Linked DNA regions of Homo sapiens. The protein of the gene in region 2 interacts with the protein of the main gene of each other region in a pairwise test. Each region holds a gene or a part of one and is shown on either strand. Other genes may lie near its edges.

Evidence for each region. The genes of interacting proteins can lie anywhere in the genome.
Region 1: the proteins of GALNT11 (region 2) and SGTB interact in binary tests that used the Homo sapiens proteins (3 or more experiments, as listed by UniProt).

Annotation. Positions count from the first base shown.
Region 1 is NC_000005.10:65,680,610-65,685,165, reverse strand, and holds part of SGTB (small glutamine-rich tetratricopeptide repeat-containing protein beta), read left to right. Parts: intron 1-4,371; coding exon 4,372-4,510; intron 4,511-4,556. UniProt on the Homo sapiens protein: Co-chaperone that binds directly to HSC70 and HSP70 and regulates their ATPase activity.
Region 2 is NC_000007.14:152,111,508-152,117,119, forward strand, and holds part of GALNT11 (polypeptide N-acetylgalactosaminyltransferase 11), read left to right. Parts: intron 1-1,738; coding exon 1,739-1,891; intron 1,892-5,396; exon of another isoform or gene 5,397-5,531; intron 5,532-5,612. UniProt on the Homo sapiens protein: Polypeptide N-acetylgalactosaminyltransferase that catalyzes the initiation of protein O-linked glycosylation and is involved in left/right asymmetry by mediating O-glycosylation of NOTCH1.

The DNA.
Region 1 (4,556 bases), on a different chromosome or scaffold from region 2:
ATATAACCGTACCACAAATCTCAGATGAGCACTCAATATTGCAGACAGTTAGGCAGACAGTTCTATTATTTTTCCTTCTATAGTCACCTTTCCACTCGCTGATGTGACGATTTCATACCTCTTCCTCTCCCTTCAAATTTCCACTACCCCCTCTCTGGTGACTCTCAACTGATGCTATTGCCTTACACTTAATTGAGAAGCTAGATGCTTTTTGAAGGAAAACAACTCATTTTCCTCCTTGCAAATCCATCAGTCTGCCTACATTTGTATCTACACAGAATGCCCTTTTTTCTTGTTAAAATGGAAGCATTCTGGCTGGGCGTGGTGACTCACGCCTGTAATCCCAGCACTTTGGAAGGCCAAGGTGGGCAGATCACTTGAGGTCAGGAGTTTAAGACCAGCCTGCCCAACATGGTGAAACCCCGTCTCTACTAAAAATACAAAAATTAGCCAGGCATGGTGATGAGCACCCGCAGACCCAGCTACTCAGGAGGCTAAGGCAGGAGAATCACTTGAACCTGGGCGGCAGAGGTTGCAGTGAGCTGAGATAGAGCCACTGCACTCCAGTCTGGGTGACAGATTGAGACTCTGTCTCAAAAAAAAAGAAGCATTCTTACCTAAGACCATTGCCTCCACTCATGCTTTAAGATCCCATTCCCTTGTACCTTCTCCACAACTTTGCAACTATTACAATCCCCTTCATTTTCTACAACATTAGATCTTCCATCTCTAATAGATGATAATGGTTGGCATGTGATCAGGTCATAAAAAGTCATTCACTGAGCCAGGTGCAGTGGCTAACACCTGTAATCCCAGCATTTTGGGAGGCCAAGGTGGGAGAAATGCTTGAGCCCAGGAGTTCAAGACCAGCCTGGGCAACATAGCAAGACCCCATCTCTATAAAAATACAAAAATTATCCAGGAGTGGTGGGGTACACCTGTAGTCCCAGCTACTTGGGAGGCTGAGGTGAGAAGATTGCTTGAGTCTGGGAAGTCGAGGCTGTGGTGAGCCGTGATCGTGTCACTGCACTCCAGCCTGAGTGACAGAGTGAGACCCTGTCTCAAAAAAAAGAAAAAAAATCATTAGTTGGACCCATCCCTTTACCCAGCGTTCCCCTCTAGCCACCATCCCACTTCTCAGTTCCTCGTTCTCTGCCCCTGATGGTTATCTGTACTTGCTGTTTCATCTTTGTCATCTCTTTTTTTCTTTTTTTTTTTTTGAGACAGAGTCTCGCTCTGTCACCCAGGCTGCAGTGCAGTGGCGCGATCTCAGCTTACTGCAAGCTTTGCCTCCTGGGTTCACGCCATTCTCCTGTCTCAGCCTCCCGAGTAGCTGGGACTACAGGCACCCGCCACCATGCCCAGCTAATTTTTTGTATTTTTAGTAGAGACGGGGTTTCACTGCGTTAGCCAGGATGGTCTCGATCTCCTGACCTCACGATCCACCCACCTCGGCCTCCCAAAGTGCTGGGATTACAGGCCACTATTAACTTATTGTCAAAATACATCACTCTCTAGGATCCTGACACTACACTTGCCCTGTTTCCCCTTCCACTTTACTGGATGCTCTTTTCCAGTCTCCCTTGCTTGTTCTTCCTCTCTACCATCTCTAAACAATGCTGTATTTTAGGGTTGCATCCTCTGCTGCTGCTGTTTCTTTGTCTTCTCTCTGCTCAGTTTATCCTGCTCCATGCTTTTAAAATTCATCTACAGTTGATACTCATTATTTGCAGATTCTGTATTTATGAATTTGCCTACTTGCTAAATTAATTTGTAATCCCCAAATCAATATTTACACTGCTTCTGTGGTCATTCATGTACATGCACAATTAGTGAAAATGTGTCTTCTGATGCTCTCGATCTCAACTGAGGGTGAATAAGGTGATGCTCTATCTTTTTGTTTCAGCTCTCATGCTGAAACAGTCTATTTAGTGCTACATTTTTTTTTGTATTTTTGTGCCTTTTATTTGTGATTTTGCTGTTTACAGTGGCCCCCAACTATAGGCTGAAGTGTTATCTAGTATTCCTAAGTGCAAGAGGACTGTAATGTGCCTTATGGAGAAAATATATTTATGAGACAAGCTTCATTCAGGCATGAGTTAGTGCCGTTGGCTATGAGTTCAATGCTAATGAATAAAATATATATATTAAATAAAGTTTCTTTAATCAGAAACACACATAAAAACAAGATTATATATTGATCAGTTGATGAAAATATGACTATTTACAACAGTTGCAGGAACCTAACTCTGTATTTTCCCTAGGAACAATTGTTCAGTATTTGCTAATTCATTGTTCATGGTGACTTTATAGAACAGGACTACTGTGAATAAGAATCAACTATATATATTATCGGATCTAATTTATATGTTTGAACTCCGTACTCATATATTCTACTACTCTTCAACTCTATGTTTGGATGTTTAATAGGTATTTAAACTTAACATGTCCCAGACAGAACTCATGTTCCCTTCCAAAATCTTTCCAATCTCAATACATTGTACAATTAGTTATCTATCCCATGCACAGGTCAGAAGCCTAAGAGTCATCCTTCATTGTTATTACGCCTGACATAAGTACTGATACTCTGTCATCAAGTCCTGTCAATTCTAGTTTCTGTATATATCTTGAATCCAAGTGTTGATCGCTATCTTACATATAGCCCCAGTCCAAACTACATCTCTTACCTAAGCTACTGCAATAGCTTCCTAACCGATCTCCCTGCCTCCATTCTACCCTTCTGCCCATGTAGATCCTCTACGTAGAAGCCAGAGTGAGCTTTCAAAAGCACAAATTGTATCATGTGACTCCATTGCAACCAGAATAAAGTTCAAACTCCAAGCAATGGTCCTCTATCATCTGGCACCCAACTGTTCTCTGACATCATCTCTCCATGCTTTGTTTTCTGTGTTCCCTCCTCATCAGCCCTTGTCCTGTTCCTTAAGAATACCAAGCTTGCATCTTTCTTGGGACCTTTCTGTTTACTGCTATTTCCACTACAATGCTCCTCCCTCATTTTCATGACTGCTTTCTTTACATCACTCAGATCTTTCCAATGTGGCTACTTTTTGAGCAGCTCTCCTATTCATTCCTTTAATATTGCCCTTTTTATTTGCATGCTTGTTGCCTGTCTTCCCCAGGTAGAATGAAATTTTCTTAAAGACAGAAAACTTTATCTTTTTTTTTTTTTGAGATGGAATTTCGCTCTTGTTTTCCAGGCTGGAGTGCAATGGCACAATCTCGGCCCACTGCAACCTCCGCCTCCTGGATTCAAGCAATTCTCATGCCTCAGCCTTCCTAGTAGCTGGGATTACAGGCGTCTGCCACCATGCTTGGCTAATTTTTGTATTTTTAGTAGAGACAGGGCTTCACCATGTTGGCCAGACTGGTCTCAGACTCCTGACCTCAAGTGATCCACCCACCCTGGCCTCCCAAAGTGCTGCTGGGATTAGAGACGTGGGCCACTGCGCCCAGCCAGGATCCTCAGTATCTTTAGATATTATTTTAATAATATTCTTATACATCATAGAGTTTCAGTAAATAGTTACTGACTTGACTCTTGATTAACTGGGGACTCTGATAAAGTATCATACATGGTTGACTGGTAGAAAATGAATTAGGTTCCGATAAAGAGAAAAAGAGAAAAGAAAACAGTAATTTGTTTAAAACAAACCTAAAACAAACAGAAACCCCTAATACTATGTCACCATATATACAGTTATTGTTTAGTTCTATAATAATTTTTCAATAAGTAAATTATAACTAGGTAAATATGAACATTAAAATTTAATACCTCTTTGACTTGTGCCTGGTATAATTTGTTATTTGAATTGTAAAGGATGCTAATTTTATCTACCTCTTTTGATCAGGAATAGTTATCTAATAACTACAGCCTGTTTTCTTAATGGAAAATTGATATTAATTGTTCCTCTGTTAGGAAGAAGAAAGCATGTAGGCCATTTTGAAGCACAAATACAGTTTAGAGTCCTTAAAAATGGTGTTAGCATCATGGATTTATGTGACCACATGATTGTCAACTCACATCTTTTGGAACTTAGTCTAGGCATTTATAAAGCAAATTATTTTACATATTAAGCTTAAAAATGGTAGAGTAAGTAAGATAATCTCTAAGCATTAAATTCATGATCTATAGGACAACCAGGTTATCAGCAAGCAGAATGGAGTGAGTTCAGATATATAGAATCTTAAGTTGGAGGGAATTTTGCTCCCGTGAGCCATAGTACAGTGAATAAATTAAGTGTAATCTGGATTAGAACTGAATACCAAGACAGACAGACGTTTGACGATGTTTGTGATGTCCTGATGTTCTTTAATCATATATCTGATATTCTTATATTCTATTCCCTTCAGGCTGGCCCTCACTGCCTTGAATAAATTTGAAGAAGCAGTTACAAGTTATCAAAAGGCATTAGATCTTGACCCTGAAAATGATTCCTATAAGTCAAATCTGAAAATAGCAGAACAGAAGTTAAGAGAGGTATCCAGTCCTGTAAGTTGTTAATGCCAAATGAGTGAAGTATTTTCTGTCATTCACA
Region 2 (5,612 bases):
CTTTTAGTGCACTCATCACCAGAGTAATGCACATTGTACCCAACAGGTAGTACTTCATCCCTCACTCCTCTCCCATCTTTTAGAGTCTCCAGTATCTGTTATTCCACTCTGTGTGTGTGTGTATATATATATATATATTTTTTTAAATTATAAAAGTATTGTTGTAATGAATGGTTGGATATAAATTTAAAATGTCTTAATGTGCTAATTTAAAGGTTTGTTCTTTTTTTGTTGGTTTATTTTATTGATACTACCAGATACATATAGTCATATAGTCAGGGTGACCAGATTTCCCTGAGGCCTAAGACCATCCTAGTTCATACCTGTTCTCTTGGAAAAATAAATAGCTTCCCATTGTACTTTCAGAAACAGCTCAGTTTGATGCTGCATTATACCATCACCCCATGTATAGCTTACCAAGTCCTTTGTGTATACAGGCACCCCTGTCCCGAGGAGGAAATCCACCTCGCATTATCTGTCTTCTCCAATTGCTAAGGTTTGAAAGGTGACAGCATAGGTGGAGTCTGTGGCTCAGAGGACCATGGTGTAGACAGTCTTTGGGAAAGGCAGAAAGAGGGCGAGGGGAGAGCTGAGACTTCTCCTTCCAAGCAAATATCCCAGTATTTCTCCCAACCATCTCCTAGTCCAGTTAGCAGAATCCCTATCAGATAATACCATGATACTTGTTCATATGTCCTTCTGTATTTCTGCAAATGTATTGACTACAGTATTTTTAAAAAGCAAGTTTTGGCTGGGTCCATGGTGGCTCACGCCTATAATCCCAGCACTTTGGGAGGCCAAGGTGGGCTGATCCTGAGGTCAGGAGTTCAAGACCAGCCTGGCCAACATGGTGAAACCCCGTCTCTACTAAAAATACAAAAAAATTAGCTGGGCGTGGTGGCGGGTGCCTGTAATCCCTGCTACTCGGGAGGCTGAGGCAGGAGAATCGCTTGAACCTGGGAGGCAGAGGTTGCAGTGAGCCAAGCGCCACTGCACTCTAGCCGGGGGGACAAGAGCGAGACTGTGTCTCAACAAAAAAAAAAAAAGAAAAAGCAGGTTTTCATTCTGTAAGTTTTAGAATGTTAGGGTTAAAGGCGTAATAGATTTTATTATGCTTCTTATTTAATAGATTTTATTATTAAAAGTTCAGTCTCTTTTTAGATAAGGCAATCTAATCCCACAAAAACGAACTTAACTCCAAAGTAATTCAGATAGTCAAGGACAGAATTTAGACCAGAGCTAAGGTCTTTTGAATCTTAATCTGGAGTTATTCTATATATTTTATATTAAAAAATCTGTTTTCCAAAAAAGAATATGCATTGTATAAGCAAGTACCTGTGAAACTAAAATGAGAGAACAGGTAATAAGCACTTCTTAAAAGAAAATAAATAAATAAATAAATAAAAATAAGCACTTCTTGTTCTTAAGTGCCTAAGATCAAGTCTCTTGATCTGTTAAAGCAACAAAGTTGGGTAAGTGCAATTTCAGACTTATGGTAGTAAATGCTGACTATAGCATTGTTTTAGCATTTAGTTCCTTGTAATGATAAAGACAGACAATTTCTAACAATGTGTACCTTCTCATTTCCTTCTATTTGAATATTTGTATCTAATAAGATAAATATCTTGCCAAGTTTCATAAACACCTATTGAATAAAGATTAATTTCATTGAAAATTCATACATTGGTTTCACAACAACATGAGGCAACTGTTAACACCTGTTTTTGCTTCTGGCCAGATCTGGATGTGTGGCGGTAAGCTCTTCATCATCCCTTGCTCTAGAGTAGGACACATTTTCCGAAAAAGGCGACCATATGGATCTCCCGAAGGCCAGGACACCATGACACACAACTCTTTGCGGCTGGCACATGTCTGGTTGGATGAATACAAGGTGAGATGAAATTTCTTGTTTAGAAGGATGAATGATAGGCCGGCAGTGACTGGCCTAGTGATAGCTTTAGTTGCTTACTTTTCACTCTGGCATATTTCTCTTGGTTAACCTTCACCTTAGGGCCAACTCTTTCTAGTTTCCCCCCACCCCCTTCACCTAGTACTTCACTTCTTTCTGGTTCTAATCTGACTCTTTTAATTTTGTAAGTGTCTACTCCATAAGAAGTAATGCGGCTAATGTTGGAAGAAATTCCATCTTCAGTTTCTTTATTCCGTCTGGTCTCTCTATTGTGACGCCTGCAAAAGTTGGCTTTCTTTTTTTTTTTTTTTTTTTTTTTTTTTTTTTTTTTTTTTTTTGAGACAGGGTCTTGCTTTGTCACCCAGGCAGGAGTGCAGTGGTGTGATCACGGCTCACTGCAGCCTCAGTCTCCTGGGCTCAAGTGATCCTACTGCTTCAGCCTCCCAAGTAGCTGGGACTATAGGCATGTGCTACCATGCCTGGATAATTTTTTTTAAAAAGTGTTTTTTTTTTTGTTTGTTTGTTTTTTTAGAGATGGGATCTCACTGTGTTGCCCAGGCTGGTCTTGAGCTCTTGGGCTCAAAAGATCCTCCTGCCTTGGCCTCCCGAAGTGCTGGGACTACGTGTGTGAGCCACTGTGCCAGGCCTGGCCTTTTCTTTTACTCATTGGACTTCGTGGTGACCCAATCCCGTTTCTTCCCCTGTTAGAGGGCACATTTAGAATTACTTCCCACTTTCTCTTCTGCCTTAGGTCACTTTATATATTTTCTTTGTAATGATTTATTGAAGTATAATCCAAAAATTGATTTTGGAATATTTTATCACTGCAAAAAGAAGTCCATAGCCTTCGATCATCTCCCCAAAGTCTCCCTCTCTGCCTCAGCCCTAGACAGCCAATAAGCAACCATTAATCTACTCCTTGTCTCTACTTAATTTGCCTTTTCTGGATATTTCCTACAAATGGAATCATAAACTATGTGGTCTTTTCTGTCTGGCTTCTTCAGTTGAGCATGGCGTTTTCAGGTTCATCCGTGCCGTTCCATGTATGGGTCTGCATTCCTTTTTATTGCCAAATAATATTCCATTGTATGAACAGACCACATTTTACTTTATCCACCAGCTGATCAACATTTAGGTTGTTTCCACTTTTTTTTTTTTTTTGAGACAGAGTTTCACTCTTGTTGCCCAGGCTGAAGTGCAACGGCGCAATCTCGGCTCACTGCAACCTCCACCTCCTGGGTTCGAGTGATTCTCCTGCCTCAGCCTCAGCCTCCCGAGTAGCTGGGATTACAGGTGTGAGCCACCACGCCTGGTTGCTGCTGTATTTGTGTATAGCTATTTTTTAAACATTTGTTGTGCACCTCCTGTATGCCAGGCTCTGTGTTAGGGCGTGAGCCACCACGCCTGGTTGCTGCTGTATTTGTGTATAGCTATTTTTTAAACATTTGTTGTGCACCTCCTGTATGCCAGGCTCTGTGTTAGGTTTTGGGGGATAAAAGATGAATAAGGAAGTGCACAGTAATTTTTCACACCGTGAGGGAAATGTCAACAGAGACATGTAGCTTGTGCTGGAATGACAGGGACACAGTGGTGCACTGTGTTTGGGGGCAGTAGGGACTCCACAGTGCTTCTCCTACAGCACTGTTTATCTCCCCTCTCCCTCCTTGACCAGACTTTGAGGTCTAATTCCATGCTCATCTCTGAATCATCACTGGCTACCATAGTTCTCAACACATGGTCCCACTCCTAGCCACTCTTTGAGGAGGTCTGCCAGTTTAAACTCATTTTCATAGTCAGGTTAATACAGTATTTGCCTCTTTGACCGTGTTGACATTGCACTGAGTGTGTAAAATCAGGGGAGTAAAGTGGCTGGTGCCTTAGCATAAATCGAGGCATCAGCACCCAGTTATACTGTAGTCACTGCATTCTTCACCAGCACTCACTCAGAAGACAAAGGCCAGCTGCATTTCCGAATATCATTGATATAATAATAATTTTAGTAAATCTCAATGTGCCTTTTTAGTATCCTGTGTGAGTATGCGTGCTCATACAAAAAGCACTTCTGCTGTGTACTGAAGTACGGTGCTTGGTTCAAGGAAAAACACTTGTGCAGTTGTTTGAGTTATGGGCGGAGCTAGCGGCTGCTCTCCAGAACACTCTTTTTATATGTTAAGACTGACTCACAAACCATAGTTACTCGTATTTGGGTAAAACGAACTAAATAATGAAAATGAAAACAACTGACAGTATTTGTTGCAAATGACAAAATTCAAGCCCTCAAGTGAAAATTAGAATTTTGAAAAACTTACATTTACCGCCAGGAGCTTGACAGCTTCCTAGTACTTAAAAATTTTACTTGGCCGGGTGCGGTGGCGCATGCCTGTAATCCCAGCACTTTGCGAGGCCGAGGCAGGAGGATCACCTGAGGTCGGGAGTTTGAGACCAGCCTGACCAACATGGAGAAACCCCATCTCTACTAAAAATACAAAATTAGCCGGGTGTGGTGGCGCATGCCTGTAGTTCCAGCTACTCAGGAGGCTGAGGCAGGAGAATCGCTTGAACCTGGGAGGTGGAGGTTGTGGTGTGCCGAGATCGTGCCATTGTACTCCAGCCTGGGCAACAAGAGTGAAACTCCATCTCAAAAAAAATTTACTGAGGAGATCAGTGGTTTTATATATAATTTTTTGATATTGTATAGTGAAATTTTTCAATATTTGGTAGAACAGTACAATCCAGTGGAGTAGTATTTTCCAAATGACTAATCCACACTGTTACAAAAACGGGTGGAAGATCCATTCAGAGAGCAAGACAGACCAGGAGATATTATTTAACTTTATTTATCTTTGTTTTTTGAATCAGAGTCTTACTCTGTTGCCCAGGCTGTAGTGCAGTGGCACGATCTCAATTCACTGCAACCTCCACCTCCCAGGTTCAAGTGATTCTGCAGCCTCGGCCCCCAAGGAGCATGCGCCACCACTCCCAACTAATTTTTGTATTTTTTCGTAGAGACACGGTTTCACCATGTTTGGCCAGGCGGGTCTCAAACTCCTGACCTTAAGTGATCCGCCTGCCTTGGCCTCCCAAAGTGCTGGGATTACAAGTGTGAGCCACTGCGCCTGGCCGATAGACCAGTACATTTTAATGCAACAGTGTAAAAATCTTAATATGATTTCATATTCCACATCGTAACTAGACTTCGAAAGTTATTGAATTTTGGAGTAGTATTAACCCCATAATTATATATAGGTTGTAATTTTAAAAATACATATATTTAACCAAAACAACACACTGCAACAGGCTAAATGCAGATGTGAGAATTTAGCTGGCTTGTTTTAAGCCAGCCAGCCAGCAAAAAGGTTTGCAAAAATAGAAAGCAGTGTCACTGTTCTCACTACATTTTGTGTTTGTAATGAGTATTTAATTATTTTAAGGAATTAATAATTTGTAGGTTTCTCTGTTTTAATTTCTGTGTGATAAATATGAACAGACACAGCCCACACACGCAGACCCTCCTGGGAGTTTTCCGTAATTTTTAAGAACATCGATGACTGAGACTCACGAGTTTGAGACCCACTGATCTCATATATACGCCTGTTTCATTGATTCTCAGATACAGTTTAAGGTACATGTTATTATCATTGTTAGTAATGGACTTAATCGTGTAAAAAATCTCTATATAGTTGTATCATCATTTTTAACAAAA